Homo sapiens: one gene and its partners. The main gene of each other region encodes a partner of the protein of the gene in region 3 in a complex. Each region holds a gene or a part of one and is shown on either strand. Other genes may lie near its edges.

The links.
Region 1: the proteins of SMAD7 (region 3) and SMURF2 are in contact, whole or in part, in an NMR structure (PDB 2LTZ), measured with the Homo sapiens proteins. Residues at the interface, in NP_005895.1 of Homo sapiens: Glu203, Leu204, Glu205, Ser206, Pro207, Pro208, Pro209, Tyr211, Ser212, Arg213, Tyr214, Pro215, Met216, Asp217; in NP_073576.1 of Homo sapiens: Glu304, Arg306, Asn307, Thr308, Ala309, Thr310, Arg312, Tyr314, Val316, Asp317, His318, Arg321, Thr322, Thr323, Gln324, Phe325, Thr326.
Region 2: the proteins of SMAD7 (region 3) and SMURF1 are in contact, whole or in part, in an NMR structure (PDB 2LTX), measured with the Homo sapiens proteins. Residues at the interface, in NP_005895.1 of Homo sapiens: Glu203, Glu205, Ser206, Pro207, Pro208, Pro209, Pro210, Tyr211, Ser212, Arg213, Tyr214, Pro215, Asp217; in NP_065162.1 of Homo sapiens: Glu313, Arg315, Ser316, Thr317, Arg321, Tyr323, Val325, Asp326, His327, Arg330, Thr331, Thr332, Phe334, Thr335.
Region 4: the proteins of SMAD7 (region 3) and YAP1 are in contact, whole or in part, in an NMR structure (PDB 2LTV), measured with the Homo sapiens proteins. Residues at the interface, in NP_005895.1 of Homo sapiens: Ser206, Pro207, Pro208, Pro209, Pro210, Tyr211, Tyr214, Pro215, Met216, Asp217; in NP_001123617.1 of Homo sapiens: Thr241, Gln242, Asp243, Tyr247, Ile249, Asn250, His251, Lys254, Thr255, Thr256, Ser257, Trp258.

The regions. Positions count from the first base shown.
Region 1 is NC_000017.11:64,554,306-64,561,326, reverse strand, and holds part of SMURF2 (E3 ubiquitin-protein ligase SMURF2), read left to right. Parts: intron 1-3,604; coding exon 3,605-3,719; intron 3,720-5,328; coding exon 5,329-5,507; intron 5,508-6,333; coding exon 6,334-6,471; intron 6,472-7,021. UniProt on the Homo sapiens protein: E3 ubiquitin-protein ligase which accepts ubiquitin from an E2 ubiquitin-conjugating enzyme in the form of a thioester and then directly transfers the ubiquitin to targeted substrates.
Region 2 is NC_000007.14:99,141,102-99,147,925, reverse strand, and holds the start of SMURF1 (E3 ubiquitin-protein ligase SMURF1), read left to right. Parts: upstream 1-3,817; 5' UTR 3,818-4,145; coding exon 4,146-4,200; intron 4,201-6,824. UniProt on the Homo sapiens protein: E3 ubiquitin-protein ligase that acts as a negative regulator of BMP signaling pathway. Mediates ubiquitination and degradation of SMAD1 and SMAD5, 2 receptor-regulated SMADs specific for the BMP pathway.
Region 3 is NC_000018.10:48,940,951-48,947,971, forward strand, and holds part of SMAD7 (mothers against decapentaplegic homolog 7), read right to left. Parts: intron 1,858-7,021; exon of another isoform or gene 1,709-1,857; coding exon of another isoform or gene 1,606-1,708; coding exon 1,531-1,605; intron 1-1,530. UniProt on the Homo sapiens protein: Antagonist of signaling by TGF-beta (transforming growth factor) type 1 receptor superfamily members; has been shown to inhibit TGF-beta (Transforming growth factor) and activin signaling by associating with their receptors thus preventing SMAD2 access.
Region 4 is NC_000011.10:102,105,444-102,113,459, reverse strand, and holds the start of YAP1 (transcriptional coactivator YAP1), read right to left. Parts: upstream 3,014-8,016; 5' UTR 2,612-3,013; coding exon 2,291-2,611; intron 1,912-2,290; exon of another isoform or gene 1,689-1,911; intron 1,013-1,688; exon of another isoform or gene 715-1,012; intron 1-714. UniProt on the Homo sapiens protein: Transcriptional regulator with dual roles as a coactivator and corepressor. Critical downstream regulatory target in the Hippo signaling pathway, crucial for organ size control and tumor suppression by restricting proliferation and promoting apoptosis.

The DNA of each region.
Region 1 (7,021 bases), on a different chromosome or scaffold from region 3:
CCGGACAAGTATTCTGGAACTCCCCAGTAGACCATCTGAGTCCCATGAGACTGCAGGCCCTGTGTTTTCTCCATCTCTCTCTTTAAGTACATTATTGCCTCTGCTTTACATTGTCAGGAACAGTTTTGAGATTTAAATGATATATAACCTGAACTGAATACTGGTTCTCTTTGCTTCCATTTGTTATGCCTTTTTTCCTTGTTAAATGAATGTGTATGCATGCATGTGTGTATACACATGTACATATCATGATGGTCCTCAGAATGTTTCAGTACAGAAGGTAGAATGCTTCTGCTACATTTGTAACTCACAGGTCAAGTCAAATTAATTTTCTTTCTTTTTTTTTTTTTTTTTTTTTTTGGAGACAGGGTCTCCCTCTGTCACCCAGGCTGGAGTGTAGTGGCGTGATCTCAGCTCACTGCAACCTCCCCATCCTGGGCTCAAGAGAGCCTCCCACCTCAGCCTCCTGAGTAGCTGGGACTACAGGTACAAGCCACCACACCCGGCTAGTTTTTGTTTTTTTTTTTTTGTAGAGATGGGGTTTTGCCATGTTGCCCAGGCTATTCTCGAACTTCTGAGCTCAAACAATCTGCCTGCCCCAGCCTTCCGAAGTGCTGGGATTACAGGTGTGAGCCACCACACCCAGCCAGTGATTTATTTCTGATATTATATTTACTACAAGAATTCTTTTCTATGTGTGAAAATTCGTTTTATATAAATGGAGAAACACTGTAGCTCTGTATTGAAATGTTCCAAGGATCATTGTGGTAATTCTGCTTTCCCTAATCTTAAATCCAACCAAAATTATGTTTTCAATAATTCCCATTAATTGTTATTTAGCATTACATGTGTGTATTTGTAGCCTTATTTTCATTCTGTCACCTTTTAAACCTACGGATGGATAGTTTCTTTAGTGTGGATTTTTAAAAATAATCCCTTGTACATCATACTTAGGACTTGACAGTTTCTGTGGAATTTGTATTACTTACTCATAACTAGAGTGAATGTTTATTGGGAACACTTCATCATCAACTACTGGTGGCATCTAAGTACTATAATTATATGTATAGATCAAATAAGTAGTTTATTTTATTTATTTAGTTTTTTAGAGACGGGGTCTCACTCTGTCACCCAGGCTCCATGGAGTGCAGTGGTGTGATCATGGCTCACTGCAGCTTCGAACTCCTAGGTACAAGTGATCCTCCTGCCTCAGCCTCCTAAAGAGCTAGGACTATAGGCACATGCTTCCATGCCTAATTAAAAAAAAAAAAATTTGGCCAGGTGCAGTGGCTCACACCTGTAATCCCAGCACTTTGGGAGACTGAGGTGGGCAGATCACGAGGTCAAGAGATTGAGACCATCCTGGCCAACATGATGAAACCCCGTCTCTACTAAAAACTAAAAAAAAAAGATTAGCTGGGTATGGTGGCGCACACCTGTAGTCCCAGCTATTCGGGAGGCTGAGGCAGGGGAATCACTTGAACCCAGGAGGCAAAGGTTGCACTGAGCCGAGATCGTGCTACTGCACTCCAGCCTGGTGACAGAGTGTGACTCCGTCTCAAAAAAAAAAAAATTTTTTTTTTTTTGGTAGAAACAGGATCTTGTGTTGCCCAGGCTGGTCTCAAACTCCTGGCCTCAAGTGATCCTCCAGCCTCCGCCTCCCTAAGTGCTGGAATTACAGGCGCGAGCCACCATGCCTGGCTCGTAGTCAGTTTTTTTTGTTGTTGTTGTTTTTGAGATGGAATCTCACTCTGTCGCCAGGCTGGAGTGCAGTGGCGCAATCTCGGCTCCCTGCAACCTCTGCCTCCTGGGTTCAAGCGATTCTCCAGCCTCAGTCTCCCGGGTAGCTGGACTACAGGCGCATACAACCACGCCTAGCTAATTTTTGTATTTTTAATAGAGACGGGGTTTCACCATGTTGGCCATGCTGGTCTCAATCTCCTGACCTTGTGATCTGCCCGCCTTAGCCTCCCAAAGTGCTGGGATTACAGTCATGAGCCACCGAACCCAGCCCAGTTTTTTGTTTTTTAACCTTACTACTGTCAGGGTTTGAGCAGAATAAATGGAATGTGACAGTGATCTGCTTTTTCTGAACTTTATTCCATAGTAGAATCTCAAAGTAGTTGAGTTCTGCTCTTATTTGTGTTCTAAATACTTGGTAAAACAAAACAAAAATTTGGATTTTCTTTTTAAAAAACACATACACACACCAAAAACACAAGACACATCAGATGAGTGTTATGTTGGGAAGGCTGCTTATGTGGAGACGTTACTTCTTTTTTTAATCTCTAGAGTAGTTTTTCAAATGTTACATAATGGTAGTAATTTAATTTAGACTCCATCACATAGAATTTTGAAACAGTTTCCTTTAACTAGTTTTAATACTATTCTGCATTTGCTCAAAAATATTATTCAATCTGTTTAATCCATAATATCAAAATATATCATTTAAATAACCTTCCCTAGCCAAGGAATGACAAGAATTAAGACTAGAACTACATCTCTTAAGTCCTAGACTAGTGAATTTCCAAAGTGAGTAACAAATTATCTTTTATACTTTGAAAAATTTGAAGGTTTTAATAAATTCAAGGTGGAAGTACTTTTTATTCCAGGTTTTAAAAACATTGATTTACATTGAAGTCAAGAAGTGGTATGGAACATACCCAAAGAATGCACGTTTGCCCTTGAGTCCATACCTACACCAAATGCCTTGCAATCCTTGCCCACTTATATTTTTATCATGGTATGTTTCAGGGTTTATACAGTGAATGATAATGAAATGAATAATGAAATGTCCTTAATACTACAACAAAATATAGCCTTGTCCAAAATGAAGAGTAAATCAATACTATATTATATGTCTGTATAAACTGGTCGTGATAGGAGTAGACCAGGATAATAGAGATGACGTGGACTTTTTTTTTTTTTCTTTGAGACAGGGTCTCTGTCACCCAGCCTGGGGTGCAGTGGTGCAATCTCAGCTCACTGCAGCCTCAACCTCCAGGGCTCAAGCAATCCTCCCACCTCTGCCTCCCAAGTAGCTGGGACTATAGGCACTTGCCATCAACCTGGCTAATTTTTGTATTTTTTGTAGAGATGGGATTTCGCCTTGTTGCCCAGGCTGGTCACAAACTCCTGAGCACAAGCGAACCACCTGTCTTGGCCCCCCAAAGTGCTGGGATTACAGGTGTGAGCCACCGTCCCCAGCCTCACATGGACATTTTGAAATAAAACCATATTCTTCCTTTTGTTTTATGTTTATTATGGATTACAAATTTATTTGGCAATTAAAAGTAACAGACCACTGGACCGTATCATCTCGTGAGTAGCTGAACTGTTGGATAATACTTTTATACTCTTTGATGCTAAAATATAATAAAATTGCCTAAATTTTGCGTGAGATGTTACTTCAATATAATAGAGTTTTTATATGCTATTTGGGTACGGTAGATTTTTCCAATGTGATCTTATATAACTGTAGTTAGTGCTTTTTTGCCTTTTATTAATTTAAATAATTATTTGCTAAAATGATTAGTTAATGACATATCTTAATAAAAATGTATACATTAACAAAAAAATTCCTTGGTCATATCTTGTTTTCTAGGGAATGGTTGTATCTCTTGTCACATGAAATGTTGAATCCATACTATGGCCTCTTCCAGTATTCAAGAGATGATATTTATACATTGCAGATCAATCCTGATTCTGCAGTTAATCCGGTATGATTTGAAGTTATGATGTGAATTGTGACCAATAATGCTTTTCATGTTTACATGTTAATGTAGTTTATTATATAGAAATTATTTGTCCTTGTCTTAGTTGTGCCCTTTGACTCAGCAATTCCCCTTCTATAAAATTTTCCCAAGCAGATGATTATGGATATATGCACCAATTTGGAAACAGGGATGTTTATTGTTTATAGTAGCACTCAACTGAAAACAACATAGTTGTCTTCAGGAGCGGGGACTGATTAAATTATGACATGAAGCAGAATAATGCAAATGATTAAAGGCATAGGTTCTGGAATTAGAAAGACGTGTCGTGGTCTCATCACTTACTAGCTTTGTGACCTTTCAGGGCAAGTTCATGGACTTAAGCTTCAGTTTTGTCATTGCTAATAAATACATTTGTACCTCAAAGAGGGGTTATGAGAATGAAATGGGACCCTGCACATTAAGCACTTAGCACAGTGCTGTATGTTATTCACTCTACAACTCTATCAACTACATTACTAAGCACTCAACAGAAGTTAGCAGTTATTACTAATGTATTGTTTTTATATTGTCTTTCCATATAAGGGCATACTATACAGCCACTAAAATGATAATGTGGGATAATAGTTAATGATATGGAAAGATGGTGTTTATGATGTGTTAAGTGAAACGAAGGTTATCAAATAGTATAATGCAACTTTGGTAAATATATATGTTTGTGTGCGTGCGCGTGTGTTACTTTTAAAAAAGAAACAAAAACAAGATAAAAGGTTTAAAGACGAGCTTAAAAGATTACTTAGTAAATAGAGAGGTAAAAGAATTTAAAAATACAAACATCTAACAAAACAATCTGTGACGAAAGACCAAATATATATAAAAGGGTAGAAATGTTAGATTTGTTTCAAGAAGTTATTTAGGGAGGATTTTGAGGTGAAGGTTCTTTTTGGAGGGCCCACTACTGCCCCTGTAGTAACAATAGCCCAGACTCATTGACTGCTTATAACATGCCAGGTCCAGTTCCATGGGTTTCAAACATCACCTCATTTTACTCCTCATAGAGATGCTTTTTAGATACTGTTATTATCCTCATATTTCCAGATGTGGACAGTTAGTCTTACGGGGGTTAATTTGTCCATATGCCATTGACTGGCAGAATCGTGATTCTAATTCAAGTCTGACACCAAGTCTGTGCTCTTAAATCTATGGTGTTTTGATGTTTAATTTCTGGTTAGGTCAAGGAAGTAGGGAGGTTTAGGATTGAAAGATTTTTTTTCATGACAAAGGGCTCAGCAGGAGGTGAGAGAAGGAAGAGAAAAGGATCTGCAAGTAGTTGAATGAAGCTCCGGGACCATAGTTTGGACTTAATTTCTAAAAGATAAAATTTACAAAATGACTGGCCCCTGCGAGAAGGGCATATTACCCTGTGTAATATGCTGTTCTCTGGTGATCTAGAGACTCTGGAGCATGCCCTAGAGAAATACTCCCTCCTGACTCTATTGAAGAGTAAAAATTTTATGCTTATTCTCAAAAAGATTAATGTTGCTGAAATATTTCATTTTTATTAAAATTTTCCTGGGTAGTGCCTAACGAGTATATATACTGTTTTCAATTTCAGGAACATTTATCCTATTTCCACTTTGTTGGACGAATAATGGGAATGGCTGTGTTTCATGGACATTATATTGATGGTGGTTTCACATTGCCTTTTTATAAGCAATTGCTTGGGAAGTCAATTACCTTGGATGACATGGAGTTAGTAGATCCGGATCTTCACAACAGTTTAGTGTGGATACTGTATGTATTGAGTCTTCTATCTCTTCATTATAAACTCTGAGCTTTAAAAAAAAATATGTTTCAAAACTGATGTACTTAAAAAAATTACACAGAAAATATTGAGTGGTTATTTGAGTGATAGGATCGCATATGATTTCCCCCTTTCCTGTAGCTTCTTTATACATTTCAAATTCCTTAAACTTAGCAAGTGTTACTACTTTAAAAAGGAAAAAACAACTAGTATATTTCTATTTTTAAAAGTACTTTATATAATTGTTTCCTCAATGTGATACAAATTCTGTTCCAAACCTGCGTGTGTTAGAATAGCAAATTCTTGGCTGCTGTTGCTTTTAATGAAGTGGCGATTGTTGGAACCGTACTTTTAGAATAAGAACTAATTGTTGAATTTAAGCTAAGAACTGATTCTGTTTTGCAAGAGGTCATTATTTTGTGAAGATACACTGGCAATGTTTATTTTTTATAAAGTATACAGTAGCTTTCTCACTAGGGATACACAGGCACTTGGCCCCTTGGAGTACAGTACCGAGTAGGGCTCTTCAGAATGCCAAATGTAACTGAAATTGTCCTATATTGGTGGTTCTAGCAAGGCCCAGCTTTGACCAAGGCTCTTTCTCATTACTCAGGAAGTTAAATGTTTTCTGTGTTTATGAAGGTTAAAGCTCTTTGACTTTTCTGTCCAGAAAGAACTAGGTGGTATGGAAGCAGAATCTGACCTCACATTTGTTATATTATAAAATGATCTTAGTTTTATCTCACCAATTAATACATCTATAGGGTCTGTATTTTAGGTTTCCCAGTTACATATCTTTTCCTCTTTCCTATCCAGTGAGAATGATATTACAGGTGTTTTGGACCATACCTTCTGTGTTGAACATAATGCATATGGTGAAATTATTCAGCATGAACTTAAACCAAATGGCAAAAGTATCCCTGTTAATGAAGAAAATAAAAAAGAATATGTCAGGTAAACACTCCTGTGTTCTCAAGGCTGAATTTTTTAAAATGTTCTAGAATGTTAGTATGAACAAACTTAAATATTTAGATAGTACTACTTAGTGTTACAAAATCCGCTTCAGGAGAATTTAGTGGCTTATTTAGAACAGACATTTTATTATTTCTCACAATTCCATGGGTCAGGAAATTGGGCAAAAGAACAACATGGATGACAACACTGGTGTTCCACAAGATGTCAGCTAGGCCTGCAACACCAAGATGGCCTCTTCACTCATAACTAGGATAACTCAAATGGCTGAGGGCTAGCTGGCATGGCTGTTGACTGGGGTCACTGTCTGGGGCCTTGTTCTCATTGTTGGCTGAGTTCCTTGGTTCTCCCTATGTGATATCAAAGGCCATTCCCTCTCTCCATGACCACTCCCTCTCCCCATAGCCACTCCCTCCCCCCATAGCCACTCTCTCTCCCAACAAGATAGCCAGACTTCTTATGGGGTGGCCAGCTTTCTAAAGCTCAAAAGCAGAAGCTGCTAGATCTTTTTAAGGCCTAAGCCTGGTCCTGG
Region 2 (6,824 bases), on a different chromosome or scaffold from region 3:
CCCACCTTGGCCTCCTGAGTAGCTGGGACTACAGACATGCACCACCTCACCCAGATAATTTTTAAATTTTTTGTAGAGATGGGGGTCTCGTTATGTTGCCCAGGCTTTTATCAAAAAAAAAAATTTTTTTTTTTGAGATAGAGTCTTGCTCTTATCGCCCAGGCTGGAGGGCAGCAGTGCAATCTCAGCTCACTGCAACCTCCGCCTCCCGGGTTCAAGAGATTCTCCTGCCTCAGCCTCCCGAGTAGCTGGGATTACAGGCGCCTGCCACTACACCCAGGTTATTTTTGTATTTTTAGTAGAGATGGGGTTTCACCATGTTGGCCAGGATGGTCTCAAACTCCTGACCTCAGGTGATCCACCCGCCTTGGTCTCCCAAAATGCTGGGATTACAGGCGTGAGCCACTGTGCCCGGACTTTTATCAACTTTTAATGGAGTAAGTTGTATGGATAGAGTATACAAGCAGCTCCATAAGTACATTTTTATTGAAAATGGTGCTGGAAAATGCCATTCACGTTCATGCCTTTGTGCAGCTGTTCCTTCTATCTATAATGCCCTTCCTCACCACTTTGCCCAGCAAACTTGAACGTTGGCTTTAAGCTCTAGATTAAGATCATCTGTGACTCGAGATGTCTCCATTTCTCTTCTTATGTAGAATTGTTCTGTCATCTATGTTCTAGCCTGCTATACACATCCCCATCACTGTATCATTGTCAGTTGCTCATGTCTGTTTCATCCAGTTAACTGACCCTCTGGAATGCTGAAGCTGTAATAGATTTATTTTGTATTCCTTGTTCCTAGCCACATAGCAGGTGGCCAATGTTTGCCGAATGAGTAAAACATGAGCTTCCAGGTAGGAAGGTCCCCTTTGTGCAGCTGTGGTGAAAGATACTATTGGGTATATCTAGCAATTTCAAATGGTCCCAGTTTATGACGGTTTGACTTACGATTTTTTGATGTTATGGTAGGAAAGCGACACACATTCAGTAGAAACCACACTTCAAATTTCGAATTTTGATTCAAAATTCTTTATAATAACTTTATCGTAAAATAGGCTTTGTGTTAGATGATTTTGCCCCACCGTATGGTAATGAAAGTGTTCTGTGCACATTTAAGGTAGGCTGGGCTAAGCTATAATGGCTGGTAGCTTAGGTGTAGTAAATGCATTTTCCGTTGTTTTTTTTTTTTTTTTTTTTTTTTTTTTTTTTTTTTTAAGACACAGTCTCGCTCTATTGCCCAGGCTGAAGTGCAGTGGCACAATCTCGCCTCACTGCAACCTCTGCCTCCCGAGTTTAAGTGATTTTTGTGCCTCAGCCTCCCGAGTAGCTGGGACTACAGGTGCACACCACCACACCCAGTTAACTTTTGTATTTTTAGTTGACAGGGTTTCACCATGTTAGCCAGGCTGGTCTCGAACTCCTGCTCGCAGGTAATCCCCCCACCTCAGCCTCCTAAAGTGCTGGGATTACAGGCATGAACCACCATGCCCGGCCTCCGCAAATGCATTTTTGACATATTTTCAACATATTATGGGTTTATCAGAATGTAACCCCATTGTACATCAAGGAGCATCTGTACTTGTTAATGAATGAACAAAATGCCTTTCAGAAACCTCCAGAAGCAACCTCCTGACTCAAAGATTAAGGAAACAGTCAAGCCAACGAAGAACCAGCCGTCGGGGCGGGGAGAAAAACAACAAAATTAAGCAATGAAAGGTTTCCAGGTCAGGAACACCTGGGGATAAGAACAGGAGCCTGCACCCAGGTAAGCAGAGAGTGATGTCTGGTTTTGTTTAGAGAGGAGACTCTTTGAATAGGGGGGAAATACTAACGGGATTGGCAGAAGAATGGGGATTACTTGGGAGCATTAGAGACTGGATGGATTAATTCAGACCCAGGCATTCACTCTCTGTGACAATCATCTACAAATGGAAACAGCTGGATTGTGGCTCTACTGCTATTGCTTAAACATTGCTTATATTCTTGGGTCTTTCTTGAGGATAACTGAAAGAGCCGCAAGGTGCCATAGAAATGACCTAGGACCATCCTTTTATTTGACAGATGTGATGCCTTGAATCCTGCCCAGGAGAGACTCTGCTTTCACTAGGGTCATCCGAGGCAGGCAGGCAGGCAGGCAGGCGGGCAGGCAGGCAGGTATGTCTAGGCGCTCTAGGTAGAAGGCTCTGTTCCGAAGACTGTGACCTTAGGACAGGCACAAGGCTGCAGGGGATGGTAGCAATGGCCCAGAGCCTACTTTCCTTGGGACACACACACACACACACACACACACAGTATTAAAAGAATTTGTTCAAGTTGATTGATGAAGAATCAAATAAAAATAAAAAAGAACTTGTACATGAAAATGGGTAGTGGGGTCTGGGAGCGGTGGCTTAGGCCTGAAATCCCAGCACTTTGGGAGGCTGAAGCGGGCAGATCACCTGAGCTCAGAAGTTTGAGACCAGCCTGGCCAAAACAGCGAAACCCCATCTCTACCAAAAATACAAAAATTAGCTGGGTGTGGTGGCTAACGCCTGTAATCCCAGCTATACAGGAGGCTGAGACACGAGAATCACTTGAACCTGGGAGGTGGAGGTTGCAGTGAGCCAAGACCGTGCCACTGCACTCCAGCCTGGGTGACAGAGTGAGACCCTGTCTCAAAAAACAACAACAACAACAACAAGGTAGTGGGTAAAAAACAAGTTTGATAAACCTAGTTTTCCCTCTTTCTAATAATACCAGTTTATTTCTATAACATGCTAACAGAGAGGAGTTTGTTTGCTGGAGAAAGCGCATAATGAGCTTTTTCTGTGTGTGTGTGTGTGTGTGTGTGTGTGTGTTTTGAGACAGTGTCTAGCTCTGTCACCCAGGCTGTAGTGCAGTGGCCTGATCATAGCTCACTGCAGCCATGAACTCTGGGGCTCAAGTGATCCTCCCACCTCAGCCTCCCAGTACCTGGGACTACAGGCGCGCACCACCATGCCCAGCTAATTTTTGTATTTTTTGTAGAGATGGAGTCTCCCTATGTTGCCCAGGCTGGCCTCAAAGTCCTGGGCTCAAGTGATCCGCCCGCCTCGGCCTCCCAAAGTGCTGGGATTACAGGCTACAGCCACCGTACCCAGCCATGAGCTTTTGGTTCTAACCTGCAACCCCGGGAGAAGGGGAAATTTAGCAGAAGACATGGGAACACAAACCACAATGCCACTTTCTTGTTTGGTAAAATTGTATGCAGAATGGATAATAACAAACATCCGCCTCTCAACTTTATCCCTCCCTCTCATCTCGTTTTCCTTGTCCGTATATGGCACTTCTGCGATTCTGGCAACTTTGTTATGGGTCAGTGGAGCACACCCGTTGCACAGAACACACCTAAGGGCTTTGTCTCTTTGAGAAGTCCCTCCCTTGAACTTGCACGATCGAAAGCTCTTAACTGAAAAAAACTGGTATTGCACGCCTGTGTGCAAGGAGCTTGGTGTGGACACAGCCCACGGTTTCATGCAAACCACTCTTCAGTCACTCAGGAGCCCAGAGCCTCGCAGAGACAGGGGTCAAGACAGAGGGCGACCGCGCGCTGGGTCCCGGGGCCAGCTCTGCTCTCCCTTCCCGGGCTCGGGGCCAGACCCTCCCACCCACCGACCACAGGAAGGGTGAAGACCCCAACCCGCGGGATCCGGGCCCCGCGCGCCCGAGGCAGGCGTGCGGGCGACGTAGCAGCGCACCCCGCCCCGCCCCAGCGTACGTGGCGGGGGCGCGCACGCACGCAGGCGCGGGGGCGCGCAGGGCCGGGCCGGCACGGCGGCGGGCGCGCGCGCGGCTCGGAGAGGCGGCGGCAGCGGCGGAAGCGGCGAGGGCGGCGGGCGTCCGGCTCTGAGGTGGTGGAGGCGGCGGAGGCGGCGGCGGAGGCGGCGGCGGCTCGGGACTGGGCTCGGCTGGAAGCAGCGAGGGTCAGAGCGCCGCAGCAAGCGCCGATCTCCCGGCTCGACCATCCGCCTGCCGCCCGGACGCCTGGGCCGCGGAGTTTGTGTCCCGGCTCGGACCCCGGCGCCCAGCCCGGAGCCGTAACCTTGAGGCGGCGGCGGCGGGGCCGGGCCGGGCCGGGCTGGGGGGCGGTGGCGCTGGATCCGCGGCTGCCCGATCGTTGGCGGGAGATGTCGAACCCCGGGACACGCAGGAACGGCTCCAGCATCAAGATCCGTCTGACAGGTACGGCCGGCGGGAGGCCCACCCGCGCCCCGGCGCCCCCTCGCCCGCCCCGGAATTCCCCGCAGGGCGCCCTTGGAAGCGGCCCTCCCCCACGCCGGCCGTTGTCCCAGGACCTCGTCACCCCCTTCGGCGTGCGCCCCTCGCTTCTCCCTCCTGGCCCCGCCCCCTCGCCGTTGCCCGGCCCCGCCCCCTGGCCGCTCGCGCCCCCTCGGTCTCGCGTTCCCTCCCGTTCCCCCGCACCTGCCCCCTCGCATCTCCGTCCTGGCCCCGCCCCTCTCATTTCCATTCATGGCCACGCCCCTTGCATCTCCTTCCCTGGCCCCGCCCCTCGCTTCTCTTTTCCTGGCCCCGCCCCTTGCATCTCCTTCCAGGCCCTTTCCCCTCACCTCTCCCCGGCTCGGCCCCTTGCCTCTCGCTTCCCTTCCTCTCCCTAGCACCTGACCCCTCGCTTCTCCCCCCAGGCCCCGCCCCCTTGCCTTTCACCTCCATCCCTGTGGTCCTTTCTCTTCCCCACCTTTCCTCCCCAAACCTGACCCCGCCCATCTCTCTGGCCCCACCCCCTCGCTCCTCTCTGCTCCCGCCTCCTAACTTTCTGTCCCCGCCCCCTCGCTTCTCCCTGCGTCCAGCTCCCTCGCTTCTCTCTGGTCCCGCCTCCTCACTTCTTTCCTAGCCTGGGCCCTCACTTCTTCCTGGTCCCGCCTCCTCACTTCTTTCCTAGCATCGGCCCTCACTTCTTCCTGGTCCCGCCCCCTTGCTTCTCTCCTTTTTTTCTCCTCCGCCGTTTTTACCCCCTCCCTCCTTCTCCTCGCTTCCCATCCTCTCCGCCCACCTGCCCCCTCGCTTTTCCCTCCTGGCCTTGCCTCTGTTCCCCTGGTCCCATCCCTCACTTCTCACCACTTTCCCATCATCTCTCTTGCTTTCCTGTTTTCCCTCCCACCTGCTCCCTCCCCTCATCCTCCTGGTCTTTCCCACCACTTCCAAGCTATTTTGCTACCTCCCCTTCCACTTGCCCCCTTGCTTCTCCCCTCCTGCCCCCACCCACCCTCTTCTCACTCCCCCATCCTCTTTCGTTTCTCCCTCACCCCCCCACACCGTCCTCCTCCCTTCTTCCCCTAGCCCCGCCCCTCACTTTCAAGCCCCGCCCTCATTCCTGCCTAGCCCCGCCCCCTCGCTGCTGTCTGGCGAGGCCTCCACCCTTTCTTTCCTTCAGCCTGAAATTCCTCAATCCTATCTTGTAGCTGCTCCCAGTCCTGCTCTCTTCACTTCCCCCTGGTCCAGCCCTCTTCAGTCTCAGTCTGGGCCACTTCCTGTCTCTTAGGCCAGACCGCTAGCTACTTTTAACTCTGCTTCTTCAATTTTTACCTTTTCTGCATTTTGTTTCACCATCACCCCCACACTCAGCAACCCAGAGCGCCGTGAGGCTCTGATCCCTACTCCCACACTCACTGGAGGCTTTGGAAGCTGCCCACACGCAGGCTCCTTGATTCATTTTGTCTTCAATGAAAAGTCCGTGTTTCCTGGGTGGCTCTGTAGTGCCACCTTCAAGGGTGAGCGCAACGCTCTGCCGCGGGCCTGCGACTTGGTGGCGCGGATGTGATGCCAACCTGTTTCCCCCCGGGCTCCAGAGGTTCTGGACCAGGCTGCATCCTCGTCTTCCCTTTCTCACTCTCATTGGTACTACTCTCTTTCCAGTTTCAATTCATCCCTAAAGCAGGATGGCCGTGTTGCAAATGCGGCTCTGCTCCGGGACTTTCCAAACTCGAATATTTCCAGCTCTGGAAGGAAACTAAAAAGTTCATTCTAATCCCCGTCAGGGATTTTCCCCTGGATTTTTCTGTTCAGTGGCTCAGTCGGGTGAGAACTCCAAAGTCCTGGTTTGGTCAGGTCCTTTCAAAGAGAGAATGAGCGTTTTGAACACTTTATGGCAGATGCGCAGCCATAAAGTCATCGGTAAAATCCATGCAAACAATAGGTAATTTTTTTAAACTAAAATTTACTTTGAGAGCCCATAGTTGTTGCATGGCCCAACTTTTGTCTTAAGAGAAGGTTTTGTTTTTTTGTATAAAGATATCAAATAATGATTTGGACCCAAACCCAGACCCTGGTTTTGTAACGTAGGAGGTAGTTTCCTCTGGGATCTTTGCTTCTGGGGAAATACATTTCTTTATGCCAGGGCTGATAGGAAACGCTTCTCACTTTGTAGATACAATGTAGATACATTTTTATTTATGTGGTAAGATAAAAGTAACATTTTTGAGATTGTAATACTTGTAAAGCTTTTAACTTGGTTCTGATTTACAGCTCAGTCTGTAATTGACATCAGATTGGTTTCAGTTATCTTGTTAAAAGCGAAAGCAACTGATTTTGTGTTAGAAATATGATGAATGTTTTAGAAGGAATAGGTTTTAATTGAAATGTTTATGTCTGGTGTATGTATATTAATCAATCCTATTTGCCAAGCCTGAGCCTTGAAAGGGAGGACTTGGTTTCTCCTCCTACCAAATTATTTTTGGATTTAGGAATTTAGATTATCGAAGCAAGAATGCTTTGAGGAATTTTTGGATGACATTTGATAGGGAAGGATCAGGTGATGAGTGTTGTTTCTGAAACACCTTTTCCCTTTC
Region 3 (7,021 bases):
CAAGAAGACAAACCTTCCGAAAGGACCCTTTCAAAAGCTGCCACTTCCCTTGCTTATTTCATGTGGTTTGGAGGGGCCGGGGCTCCTCCCTGCACATTCAGGGTTTAAAAAATAAAACCATCTAACAACATCCTGAGCGTGTTATTCTGCTGAGACCCTTTCCTCTCATTGGCCTTCTTTCTTTCAAGAACTCTCTCAGCCTTAGAAAGCAGAAAAGATGCAGTTCACACACTGCTGCCTTTTCTCCCTCCTCAACTCCTCTGTCCACTCCCACCGTACTGCCTGAAGCCCCCTCCCTTCTCTAGGTCCCTCTTTTTCCTGCTCAATTCTCATTAGAAGCTTTGAGTAAACAATACCCTCAGTCTCAGATAACAGAGTATATATTGCATTGAAATGAAAACAAACAAGGGTCTCCCTAAAGACGTTCTCAGCAAGCTCAGTTCCTGAAGAGGAGAGCCGGGGAGGGAGCCGTCCGGGAATGAACTTTGCCTGAGCCAGCCATGGAAGACACACCACCAAGTAGTCAGAGCAGGTACCCCACAAAAAAGGGTGCCCCTCACACAAGAGGATACACCACAACAGGGCACAGCTTCTATTCGAGCTGCTACCACGTGATCCTACAGGCAAGGAAATGCCAAATGCCCAAAACTCTGCTGGAATTTCTGTTTTTAAGGTCGTTTTCCCTCTTGCTTCAGCCAGTTCTTAGAAAATCTAGTGATGACATGGTGGGGATGGAAAAACAGGTAGAAATAGGATTTCTTCAGAACAACATGAAATGCGTCCCATGTACATAACCAGTGAGTTTCTCTAAGTACTGCCCTCTTTTCGCATCCTCAGGAACAACAATGCTCTGGCTACCCCGTGCCTGTCAGCCAGCCCCGTGACCCCCCAGCACTGGCATTCCAGGCCTTCACGCATACCTGTGAGCCCTGAGGAAAACCTGCCCCGCTAGGGAACAATTACAGCTCCTACTGTTGGCAGTGCTCCCACCCTGGTGCTCCCAGCCCCAGACATGTGCTGCAAAATCCTGCAGCAGGCTGGGCTGGGAATCAGAACTTGGGAGGGAAGCCTCAGATCTACTCTGAAATCCCATCGTATGCTTGGGATCTGTCTTCAACAAGTTCCCTAAAGGTGGGTCCATTCCCTTTACATCCCCCATGCGCAAAGAGCAAAAGCAAAAAAAGAGCTCAAATGCATGAGTTAATGACACCAAAGTCACCAAGCTGAAGCCCCCCAAGCCAGGAGCTGCTTAAAAATAACCGGGCAACACTTCACACACCAAAGCAATCCCCAGCTCGCTCTTGTCTCCCCGTCCACGGAACGGATCCAGTGTCCAGAGCGTAAAGGACTGCAGGATGAGGAGCTGAAGGGCACCACAATGTCACCACCGATGCATCCAACTTAAGGCATATAAAAATGAGAATGAAGTCCAGACCAGCTGGGGTGGCAGAAGGCCACCCCCATTCCTCCAGTCTTTAGCAATTTCAAAAAAGGTTGGAATTGCCAGGAAAATAAGAGAAAGCATCTTACCTGAAAGCCCCCCAGGGGCCAGATAATTCGTTCCCCCTGTTTCAGCGGAGGAAGGCACAGCATCTGGACAGTCTGCTGTGGATTTGAAAAGGGGAGAGAAAGAAATAAATACACAAATAAAAACACCAAGATCCATCTTTAAGCACGCTCTAAACAGCATGAAAGACAAACCACACATTCCAAAAGGCTGACTCGCGGCCTTGATGCTGATTATTAATGGTCTGCTCAGGCTTCACTGCCCATCGTAAGACAGACCACAGCACCTTGTCACCCGTCTGGGCTCCGGGCAGCCAGTTAATCATTACTCGAGTCAGGCTCAATGAGACTGGCTGGAATTTCTCTTGCATTACCAGTCCCCCATTACGGATACCAGGTGGTTCCCAAGGTCAAAGGAGGTTTGGGTTGGACTTTCTCAACCCTGGTTGCTCTGTCATCCCTCATCAAGGGCAGAAGGCTCTCTCCTTGGAGCCCATGTCCTCTCTGCCTTCATCCTTTTAAAGACAGGTTTCCCAGTTCTTGAAAACATTCTCAAGATTGATGTTGGGCTGCCGGGACTTCTTTCCCCTTTTTTAATTGAGGACTAACTTAAGTAGAGCAAAGTATACAAAATCCCAAGTAGACGCAATGAATGTTACTCATGTATACATCTGTGTAACCACCACCAGATCAAGACAGAGAACATTCTCAGCAAGGCTCCGAGCCGGAGGGGAAATGTTCTACCTCTCCCAGGCTAGTCCAAACCCCTCATCTCTGGAAACCTTCCCAGGCAACCCCAGACCTGCTAAGGCTCTCTGCCCTCAGTTCCTATAAAACATTTGGCACCCAACACTCGGAGTTTCCTCACTGATTTTTACCTTTAGATTGCATCTGCCCTTAACTAGACTTCTCTTCAACTTCTGTCACCCTCAGGTACTCTGCACAGTGACCTCACCGTTAATGAGGATAATGACAATTCCAGCTGAGAAACAGTCTCCACAACCGCCCTCCAAGCAATTAAAGCAAAACCTAATGTCCATGAACCACAACTCATTAGTCCCATGAAACACAAATACACAAGACCCTGTAAGCTTGTCATGCACCACTGGCAGCGCCAAACTCCCTGAAGTCCTAGCGGAGAGCCCGGCTAAGGAAAGGTGCTGCCCAGGTCCGCAGCAAACACAACAGGTTGGATCGTGCAGACACCAGGCCTCCTACCCCAGGCCACCAGGACAATGTCCCTGTGGGTTTCCAGTTGGAACCACTTGGCCATGCTGGCAAATAGGAAAGCCAAAAAAAAAGAGCAGACGGGCAAGTAGCCCATGGGAATCCTTTAGTGGCCTACACATAGCCCCAAACCATCTCTGGGTTTCTGCTGTCTGCCCTCTTAATGCTAAGTTTCTCTCTCTAACTCAGGGTCACTCCCTCTCCCACATTCTCAAGGCTGGAAGGACAACTTTTCAAGAACTCTCCTAAGCGGGCGAGGGGCAGAAGTGGAGGCAGGCGTGGGGGTGAGGTGGCTGCGGTGGGTAGGGGGAAAGAAGACTGTGTGTGTAATCTCATTTTATCAGGGTAAAGTCTAATTCCTAACAGGAATATACAGTTTTACAGGATACACTTAATCAAACAGAAAACAATAGAGGCAGGCAGGAAATGGAGTTACTTGTTAAATGGTGTATACCCTGCACTTTCTAAACCATTTTGATGGCCTTCATCATTTTCTAGAGATAGGCTTCTCAACCCTCTCCTCCACCCACTCCTCCCAGATGGAAGACACCCCCACATTAAACATAATGACTTATCCACAGCCACTCCCCGCCACCTTTGGCTGGCAGAATCCCAGGGGCAAGGTGTGTTTCAAAGGAAAAGCCGGGCATCTCAGAGCAGAGCTGAGACCACATTCAGGGTGTCAGCCCATCTCAGATCAAAGGTAAGCCAGCTCCACACAGGCAACCACAAGCATTTTTGTGAAATGGTGCTCTGCCCTTCTGCAGTGGCTTTGATCTCAAGAGGGATTTACAAACGTTAATTAAGCCTCCCTACCACCCCTGTGAAGAAGCAAAGTATACCTGTTCCATAGGCAGCCAGGTAAACTGAGGCGTCACTGACTAGCTCAAAGGGCCACCCAGTGAGCTGGGCTATTCCCAAGAGTCCAGCCCTATCCCATGGCTCTCACTCCCCAGGCAGGCTATGGAGTCCCTACCCTCTTTCCTGGAGGTGGCCAGGCCATCCAGACTGGCCTCAAGGTTAAAGGAGCCATACCTCCATCTCTCACCCACAGAAAAGCTCCGCATAGACAGATCTCTGAAGTCAGGGTCTCACCTTAGGCCTGTGTCGCCTGTTCCCCAGAGCCCAGGCTGGCTGGCAGACAGAAGCTCTAGGCCACTCCTGACTCACGCAACACTAAGTGTTATCAAGCACTTGGTAAGCACTAGGTTCTGCGAGAGAAAAAGACTCATTCCTTTCTCCGAGCAGCTCCAACAGAGTCTTTGAAAACCCAACCCTGGGGAGCAGCCAAGGAGCGAACTATTGAGAATGAGTACAAGGTAAAGGAGCTGGGAGTCCCACGATAGTCTCAGCAACTGCGTTCTGAGCTTCCTAAGTACTGTTAAAGACAGAGGAGCCCCTACTCACCACTGTACCCCAAGGGTCCCAGCTCTGCCCCAGGTAGTTCAACCAACCCAGAACTCAAATGAACCCTGGTTATAAAAGAACACAGCACTGCCAGGTGCAGTGGCTCACGCCTGTAATCCCAGCACTTTGGGAAGCAGAGGTGGGCAGATCACACGAGGTCAGGAGATCGAGACCATCCTGGCTAACTCGGTGAAACCCCGTCTCTACTAAAAATACAAAAAATTAGCTGGGCATGGTGACGGGCACCTGTAGTCCCAGCTGCTCGGGAGGCTGAGGCAGGACAATGGTGTGAACCCAGGAGGTGGAGCTTGCAGTGAGCCGAGATCGGGCCACTGCACTCCAGCCTGGGCACAGAATGAGACTGTCTCGGAAAAAAAAAGAACACAGCACTGCATCGGAATCCTCAAATTTCTAGGTAGGCACATCATCATGCCTGTAAAATGAATGACTGAACCAATGAATGAATAAATGAATGAATGACCTAATCTCTTTCATCATGCTGATTTTAAAAGAGGCCTAGAAAAGTTAAGAGGGACCTCGGTTAAGAGAGAAACGCAGTGCCAGATCTCAGGTCAAGACACCAGACTTCCGATCTGGATTTGCAGGCTGGATCTGCCCATGGATACTGGCCACCTGGGTCCCTCAAGAGCTCACCCAGCAACCCCCCAAGGCCAGCCATTCCTCAAACCTTTCAGACCATCAGATACAATGAAACACGGGAAGCAGAGCCCACACAGCTATCCCCGAGATCCAGCTTTAAACAGCAAATTCTGACTTCTTGTGGGATGTGGAGGTGGGGGTGTCTTTCTGACTTCTGACAGCCACAAGTCACAACTGGCCTCCCCTAGGTTCAGTCATGTGAACACTCTTTCAAAGAAGGCTCTCCTGGTTGGACCACACAGTACCTAGGTGTCTAAAGTCCAGGCCTCCCAGATGCTGAGTGGAGTGGCTTAAATTATAGCAAAATGGAGTTCCTAGCTTTGAGCCCTCTGTGTCTCCAAAGGCTGCAGGGTACCAGGCCCCAGCCCCATTCCCACCACCTTTTCCTAAGATGGAGACTTCACAGGATGTATTCCTTTAGTTGTGCAACTGGTTAAGATTTTAACAGTTGTCCACTGTAAAACTTTGTGCCTGTTTCATCTAGTAACCCAAGACCAAAAATTCAACCTAAGGGACATAGAAACTGAAGAATGTAAATGGTCCATGTAGATTCCCGGGCCAAACATTCTCCCATACGCAAAATGGGGATGAAGACCTGGGTCAGCGCCCATCTGTGGTCTGACCTCAATGCCCCCGGCCACAGCAGCTGGCAAAACCAGCCCCAGACCTGTGAGGGGGGCGGGGGGGGTGTGCTCCAGCTCCAGACCTGGCTGTCCTCCAATGTGGCAGGACAATTCCCTTCGTGGGGGCTTTGTCTATTACTGATGCTAAATTCTTACACAGCAGCGCCTTTTCTCATTTCTTTTTTTGTTCTATTTTCAACAAAACGTTTTGGGTGAGTAACCAGCTGTCTTAGTTTCCGATTGGCAGGTTAATCACTTCCTATTGGCTGATCTGGAGAACTTTTCTCCCCCTTGGAAATGGCACATTCCTGTCTTTGTGGCTTCTCTGTTTACACACATTTTGCTACCTAATGTCAACACTTGCTAATGAATAAATATATCACTCCACTCACCGAAAATGAGGCCCTGGCCTGGCAGAATGACTGCTTAAATCCTGAGAACAGATTTATCCCAGTGTCTCTGCAGGAAACCCAAGGGAACATGGCCTTTCTTTTCTATGGTTTTTGGAGGTTTCTGGGAACATTTACCCCTGCTGGTCTTTATCCCTGGGGCTAAGGTCACTGTTCTCTCTCTTTTAAGGAAAACCTCCAAATTTGAAGAATATGGAAGGACAAAAAAAACAGGTCAGAGGTGGCCCCTTGGAAAATGAACTTCATAAAAGAATTCTTGATTCTTTAAGCCAAAACCCAGTCAAGTTACAGTCTTTAGGAAAACAGAGCTTGGTAATTCCAGTTAACGTTTGTTACAAATACAGAGAGCTGGGTATCTCCTTATTAATAACCATTTATCTGGTGTTTTGTAAATCGAAAGCAAAATATCACATGCTTTGCGGGCCACTTATTAGACCGGCACCAGGCAAGCAGGAACGCCTTCCCAACTTGAGGGAGCTGGTAGAGTCCCAGGAGGACTGGCTGCAGAGTATGGGCTTCGGTTACACGTTCATTAAAGTATTTAATTTATGACAACGCCCCAGCAAAACTTTTAATTAGTGGGGGGAAAGGCCCAACAGCCAAAACGCAGGAGGCGGAAGGACTTGCAGAATTCCAGGAGCTAAATGGTGCCCAACCCTTCACTTTTCCTTCTCCCAGAACCTTGGCAAAATAAAAATGTCCCAAGTATTAATGTTTTTTTCAGGCACCAGTATACAGGCACAAAAACCAAGGTTACATACAACCTGTACTTTTAGCAAACAGATCTATCTCCTACTGTAAGAGGGAGCTCCAGGAATTTGGGTTTGTCCTTGTTGTCACCCCCAAGTTCATTTTGCTGACCCTGTCCCCAGCACTGTGATGTCCAGAGGATGGACCCCTGTGCTGCTGCCGGCCAGAAGTTGAATGCAGACAACCACAACAGGGCTGGTGCCAGTCTCAAATGGGCTTCTGCCATGGCTTCATGCCAGCCAGTGACAAAGCAGCAGACAGGCAGAGCTATGCTTCAAACTTTGATAGTCCCTATGGCGAATACTGAGAAAACCCCGGGAGAGGACTGACTTGCAGGTGACTGGAGCAGGAGGAACCTACCCCCCCCCCCCTTTTACTGGCTGTTGCCTATACTTCTGAAAAGTTCTAGTGTCTACTCCAGACCAAAGTCTTCTTTGC
Region 4 (8,016 bases), on a different chromosome or scaffold from region 3:
AACTCTATACAAGCAGAAAAAATTCTGCATTCAGACCCCAAAGATCTGAGTTCCAGTCTAAGTTGGCTAGTGTGACACTGAACAAGTATCTTAACTTCCATATGCCTGTTTTCTCCTTTATAAAATAGTTTTCATGATAGAAAAATGGATGTATATGAAAGAACTTACAGTCACCAGTTTGTGTTGTGAACAATAGTATTTACAACCTAGATTTGTACTATTCATAATCTTGCATAGTTTTTAAAATATTTTTAATTAGCATTAGAGTTTGATTATCAAAAAGTTAGAATTTCCTAGATTCACAAAGGTAAGGAAACTGGAAGGACTCAGTAGAGTCATTAATGCCTTAAAGTGATACACCTTTTTGAGTTTCCCATCAGAATAAGTATGATTTAGGAAATCATTAGGAGAAATAAAAGTCGAATTTACAGATGCAAAACACTTAGTTAAAAACTTATTTAAAACAAACAAAACTATAATAGTTTATGAATTTTAGAACTGCTGGATATAAATTCTTGTAAAAATTATTTACTAGAAGAAAAAGTACACTTCCCAGTTGTAATTCTTTGTGGCTGATGCCACAAAATGGGGGATCCAATCTATGTGTATTATACTTTGAAAACATACCGTGCAGTCTGTAGGGTGCATGCCAACATACATTTACCCACAATGAGTCCATAAACCCACTTCGAGGGGTAAGAGAAAAAAGCATACCTAAGACAAATTGAAGTGTTTAGGCAAGCAGCTAAATTGTTTTTCCTTCTTTCCTCCTCCTTAACCCGGGTTTTTGTCATCAGGTTAAGTGATTTTTTCTGAGTTCCAAAACCCTTTGGTCTCCGACAGGAGACTATACAACAGGCCTGCAAATAGGAGAGGGAATGGGAGTGGGGGCGGTAACTCTTCTTTCCACTCAAGTTACATCCCGAGTGGGCTAACTACATTGCAGTATTTGGAAAACCTATTAACTTTTGGGCAAAGTTCCTATGCTGAAGTTTAGCCTGAAGCAAGTTCTCAAAAAAAAAAAAAAAAAAAAAGAAGAAGAAATAAAAAAGAAAGAAAAAGAGAGAACCCTACACAAAACAAATCCACTGGGACCTATTGGAATGTTAACACTCATTATAAACAGTTTCACTTCTATGCTGAATCAAGTTGGCACAATAATCGAACATTGTGTATGTGGAATAGCAGCCATGTTCATATCCGCAATAAGAATTAAAAAGCAATGGCGATCCTAGAATTAGTCATCGCTTCCCAAACATTAACTTTTAATCACAGTTGAACTAGGCAGGACTTGGCCTATGAGTCAACCTGCAGTGTATTATCAAAGGCTTGTGTTAAAACCTCGGTACTGTAAAGCGCAACTCAGTTCCTGCGCAACGTACAGATGTGGCTAATTCAAAAGCGTTTCAGCCGACTGTAAATAATAGTCTACAACTGGGAAACCAACACGCGACCTACTAAGTTTGATAAGAGCAAGCCGGCCCAAGTTCCAACACACAAGGGAAGAGCAGGGGTGAAAGAACTCCATAAACAACTTCCAGGAAAGTCTGGGCAGGGGAAGCCCGAAACCTGTATTCCGAAATCGCCTGAGCCGCGAGGAAAATAAATGCTTACGGGAGGGGGAGGGGAAACGGGAGGGGGGAAGGAAAGAAAGAGCAAAAAACTAAATGGACCGGTTCTACCCCCACCTCTAATCAACACTGGAAAACAAGAGAACAATTATTTGACTCCCCCAGGAGACTGAAGTGGACCGAGAGGCCGCAAAGGAAAGGGGCCCAGGGCTCAACTTCACAAACTCGGCCGCCGCTGGCAACACACCCACACACAAATGCCAGAGGCCCCCCTCCCCCTTTCCCAGCCCGGCCCGGCGGGAGCGAAGGTGCGGAGCGCGCGGAGGCGCGCGCATTGTGCAAGCCCACCGCGGCCCAGGCCCGACTTTTCCCCACCCCCTTCCTTCCTCCCCACCCCTCCTCCACTCCCGCCAACCTCTCGGGAACCCCGGGAAGAAAGAAAGGAAGAAGGAGGGAAAGCACGCCCCCCGGGGCTGCAACCGCAGAGAGAAACTCAGAAGGGAAAAACAAATCTCAGCCCCGGACTCTGGGAGGAGTGGGGAGCTGGTCACCGCGGCGGAGTGGACGACTCCAGTTCCACTTCGCCTCGGGACCCCCACCCCAGCTAGAGTTCCCGCAACCCCCCTCCCCTGACCAGAGCTGGCGGCCGCGGCTCCCGAGCGCCCCCCCGGTCTGAGGCCCGCCCGACGGGGAAACGGGGAGAGGGGCAACGAGGTTACCTGTCGGGAGTGGGATTTGGGCTCCGGCGGCTTGAAGAAGGAGTCGGGCAGCTTCCGGAGCCTCATGGGCACGGTCTGGGGCACGTTGGCCGTCTTGGGGTTCATGACGGCGTTGAAGAGCGCCTCCAGGTCGGTCTCCGAGTCCCCGCGGACGTGCACGATCTGATGCCCGGCGGGGGGTGCCTGCGGCGCCGCCTGGGTCGCCGCGGGTGCCGGTTGCCCGGGTCCGGACGGCGGGCCCTGCCCCTGCGGGGGCTGCGAAGGCGGCTGCCCTTGGCCCTGGGGGGCCGGTTGAGGCGGCGGCTGCTGCCCGGGATCCATGGCTTCTGCCTCCCCCGACGCGCACCCCCTGACCCAGGCGAGCGAGGGCTACGCCCGGACGCCCCGGCTCCACGGGCCGAGGTGGAGAAGCGGCGACGGCTGCGGGCCGGGCGGCGCTGTCCTCGCTCTCAGGGCCGGGGGGCTGCGCCGCGGCCCCGCATCCCCCGCCCCGGCGCCTCCGCCCCCGCCCTGCGCCCCGGCTCCACTGGTCTGGCGGCTGCGCCTCGGGAGGGGCTGCGAGGCACTCGGACCTGCGGCGCCTGAGAACTTTTTCCCTCCAACTCCCTTGACGGAGGCCGGACAGCTCGTTGCCTTTCCCCGCCTCCCCTTTCTCTTTATTTCCTTTTCTTGTTCCTTCCTTCCTCCCTTTCTTTTCCCTGGCGGCGGCTGCGCCCGACTGAGACAGAAACTCGCCTCAAACGCCAAAACTAAAGTTAGGAGAAGCGCCCGCCCGCGCCGCCGCGGCCCCGCCTCCTCTCGGCTCTTCCTTCCTCTGCGCGCCCGCCCGCACCGCGGCCCGGCCGGCAGCGCAGGGAAACTTTTCGCTGCAAGTTGCTACATTCCTGCACACTCCCGGCCCGCGGCGCCTCTCCCGGCCGCACGTGACCCGCTCGCCCTGGCCCGGTCCGCCCTTCGCCCGCGCTCAGCCGGGCAGGGGCCCGAAGCGTGCCCCGTATTCTGCCCCGCGAACCGCAAACGATGGGTCCAATCCGGGTCCGAACTGTGGTGTCTGCGGAGAACGCGGGCGCCCTTGGCTGCAGGAAGTTCTTCCGCTCCGCTCGGCCCCTTTTCCCCGCCCGTGCTCGGGAAAGGCGCTTCCAGTTCGCCTGGACCTGCGAAAGGGCCAAGGCCGAAAGAAGTGGAGAGAGGATGTGCGAACCCACCTCCTCCTCCTCGCGTTACCCCGGCTTGACCGAGCGGAGCGCCTGTGCGAGCTTAAAGCCGCGAGGATAGATTGGAGTTAAAATAGATACCGTGAGCCGGCATTGATGTTAATAAAGATCCATTGTTTTCAGCATTAACTTTATTTTGTAATTGTTTCACTTATCTGTTAGTCTGCAAAAACTCACTTGAGAGGGGTAAACGGTTACTGTAATTGAAGCTTTGAGACCAGGTCTGTAACTCAGTGTAACTTATTAAAAGAAACAAAAACACTACATTTTCCAAATAGTGAAATCACATCAACTTTTTTAGTACTCGAATTTGCAATAGTCACTGGAAGCCGCAACCCAAAAAATTAGTGCGTCTTCAGGTACAAGCATTCATGCCTCTGTACCTGTCTTTCATCCTCAAGGAGCTGGGTCCCTACCCCTGCTATCCCTGTGCCTGGCCCAACGGTGGACTCCGTTAATGTGGACTGAATAAGAAATGAATGGGCAAGGAGGTCATCCCAGGCACCTGATGTACAAGGAGCCCTTCTGGAAGCCACTCAAAAACAATAGAAATGTTTTTTAAGTCATACACTCTGGGTTTTTTTTTTTTAAAGCATCCTTGTTGAGATATAATTTATATACCATACAGTTTTTGCAATAGTTGTACATATTAGTATATTTAAGCAATTCACTGTTTTTTTAAATATATTCATAGGATTGTGCAACATCAGTCTAATTTTAAATGCACAAGCCCATTCTAAGGAAATCTGGCTTTCTTGTTTTAATGATTTTGTCTACAATGCTAGTGAAACAAAGGTATAAGTAGGATTAAGCAAGGAAAAAGTCCGTGAGCAAAAAGGTAATTTCTTCCTTCAGCCAGAACATGCCCAGGAGAATTCTGAAGGATCTGTATCACTTGGTGTGGTAGGGCTCGGCCAAAGGAGCAGGCCTCAGACACTCAAAATTCTAACAGAAGATTCCAATCAACTACTCTGAACCCCCAGTTTCCTGTCTGAAAAAAAGGATCAGAGTAAATGACACCCATGACTAGTTCTTGGATTTGTTCCCACTCCTAAATGTCAAGTGCATTTAACGACAGACTTGCAGGTTCTGGAGTTACAGAGTTTTGAGTTCAGGTCCCAGTTCTGCCATTTACTAGCTGTGAGGTTTTGGACAAGTTATTTATTTCCTGTTCTTTAATATTAGCATCAGGGGTAATAACACCTACCTCATAGTTGTTGGGGCATTAAATGAGTCAATGGATATAAAGTACTTAGCCCAGTTTGGGACGTGCAGTGAGTTCCACATCAATGTCAGTTGTCATTGTTGTCCCATGTTCACAGATTATTTCACAGGTAGTAACATAGCCTCTCCTTGCAGCAGCCCTCTCTTTCTAAGCACAGCCTCAGGGACCCTGTTGGTAGTCCCTTCCTCTCTTATCCAATAATCAGTCCACACAAACAAAACCTTTGGGCAGAAACTATGCATTAAAAACTTTACCTGAAAGAAAACTTTAGGAACCAAAGTGGGCCGGGTGCGGTGGTTCATGCCTGTAGTCCCAGCACTTTGGGAGGCCAAGGCAGGGGAATCACCTGAGGTCAGAAGTTCGAGACCAGTCTGGCCAAAATGGTGATACCCTGTCTCTACAAAAAAAAAAATACATAAAAATTAGCCAGGTGTGGTGGCATGTTCCTGTAGTCCCAGCTACTCAGGTGGCTGAGGCATGAGAATCACTTGAACCCAGGAGGTGGAGGTTGCAGTGAGCTGAGATCACACCACTGCACTCCAGCCTGGGCAACACAGCGAGACTCTGTCTCAAAAAAAGAACCAAAGTGATTGAAAACCTGGGATTGGAATAGAAGCTGTCCCTTTACTAGAGCATTTACTGCTATGAACACTAACTAAAGGGCTTCAGATACAGCAGAGGCTGCTTTGTTCAATATTGTTTCACCTGCCATTAAACTGAGGACAAAATTACTTTGATAAGTGGAGTGAAAGGGTCTTTGGAGTGACTATGTTCTGTAAGCACTTCTGTATCATCAACCAAGATTTTGTAATTTACTATTCCTCGTTTATACAATTTCAACCACGGTGTAGTAGGGGATAAAGATAACATATTCAGTCCTTTGTCTACTCCCTTCCTCTTCTGCCCATTTTGTGGACCAATTATCTGTTGGCAGCATCTTAAAATAGGGAGTCACCTTCTTCGTATAAAGATGCACCCTTATCCTGGATCATTTTCAATGTCCAGGTAGATCACTATCTCAAAACATGCGTATCCCAATTAGTTGACCTGTCAACTAAAATGGACCCTCATCTCTACTTCACTTTAGCCACCTGCCCCTTCGTCTGTACTCTGCATCATCCAGAAATACTCCAGTAGTGAAGTCAGACTATGGTATACCATATTCTTAATAATCATCTGGTTCTCTTATTTCATTACTCACATCTCATTTATCCTTAACCTCTCCCTTTTCTGCAACCTATCACTCCCTTCCCTTTTCATTTCTGTTATGGTTTGGGTGTTTCTGTCTCTCCAAAATTCATGTTGAAACGTCTCCAGTGCATCAGTATTAAAGAGGTGGGGCCTTTAAGGAGGTGATTAGGTCACGAAGGTTCCTCCCTCCTAAATGGGATTAAGAACTTTATACAAGAGGCTTCACACAGCATTCAGCTGTTTTGCCCTTTCATCTGTCTGCTGTGTGAGGACACAGCCTTCATCCCTTTAAGAGGATGCAGCAACAAGGCACCATCTTGGAAGTAGAAAGCAGCTGTCATGAGACAGCAAACCTGTTGCTGCCTTGATCTTGGACTTCCCAACCTCCGGAACTGTGAGAAATAAAATTCTAGTATTTATAAATTATCCAGTATGTGGTATTTTTTATAGCAGCACAAACAGACTAAGATAACATCCTTGCCATTCAGTTTGGAAATCGTAATTCATTGTTTAAACTTCCCATGCCAGGCATGATGGCTTATGCCTATAATCCCAGCACTTTGGGAGGATGAGGTGGGTGGATCATCTGAGGTCAGGAGTTCAAGACCAACGTGGCAAAACCCTGTCTCTACTAAAAATACAAAAATTAGCCGGGCATGGTGGCACATGCCTGTAATCCCAGCTATTTGGTAGGCTGAGGCAGGAGAATCACTTGTATCCAGGAGGCGGAGGTCACAGTGAGCCGAGATTGTGCCATTGCACTCCAGCCTGGGCGAAAGAGCGAAACTCCATCTCAAAAAACAATAATAATAATAAATAAATTTCTCACAATTATCTAAATCTTCAATCCCGTTCTCTCATGGATTTTAATGAACCGAATCTGTTATACTGTTTTAATCCAGTTATCTGTGTTTTATTCCAACGCCTAAGCTTATAGGGCCTAGCCCCACATTCATGAGAAGCTTCAATCAAAGCTTTTAACATTTTGTCCAAATAAGGTTACACTACCTTCCCAAATATATGCCTACACTATACAAGGAGGCATTCTTTGTAGAACTTTAAACTTTGTCTCATCACCAAATGACACTATCTATAATGCATTATGAATTAATAGTTTAAGTAGGCCAAGTGTGGTGGTGCACACCTGTGGTCCCACCACTTTGGGTTGCCAAGGGGGGTGGATCACCTGAAGTCAGGAGTTTGCGACCAGCCTGACTAATGTGGTAAAACCCTATCTCTACTAAATACAAAAAAATTAGACGGGCGTGGTGGCACATGCCTGTAATCCAAGCTACTTGGGAGGCTGAGACAGGAGAATCACTTGTACCTGGGAGGCAGAGGTTGCAGTGAGCCAAGATGGAGCCATTGCACTCCAGCCTGGGCAACAAGAGCAAAACTCCATCTCAAAAAAAAAAAAAAAAAAAAAAGGCCGGGTACTGTGGCTCACACCTGTAATCCCAGCACTTTGGGAGGCTGAGGTGGGTGGATCACCTAAGGTCAGGAGTTTGACACCAGCCTGGCCAACATGGTGAAACCCTGTCTCTATTAAAAATACAAAAATCAGCAGGGTGTGGTGGCGCACACCTGTAATCCCAGCTACTCTGGAGGCTGAGGCAGGAGAATCACTTGAACACGGGAGGCAGAAGTTGCAGTGAGCCGAGATGGCGCCACTGAACTCCAGCCTGGCTGACAGAGCGAGACTCCATCTCAAAAAAAAAATAGTTTAAGTAAATTCTATAATTATCTGGTGAATATCACAATTATTTTTCTTTGTAATTATCCCATGTTAAAAGTATTAACTTGTTAAGTGTAAACATTTGAAACATACCAATGTTTTAGAACCTTCTCTTGGCATTCTGGCATGCTAAGTACACTGGGAACTTGAAAGAAGTGGTCAGCTCTCTTCCAGCCTCCGAGAAGCCTGGCTAACACCTTGGTTTCTGGGGCCAACGGAAAGGAATCTCACATGTGAATGCATTAGTGTCCTTCCACATTTATAGTCTCTAACTGAACCATGTTTCCCTGCATCTGTAATGAGCCTTTTCTTGCATGATATAGCTATTCTAAACTTAGTCACGTAACTCATCACATTTATT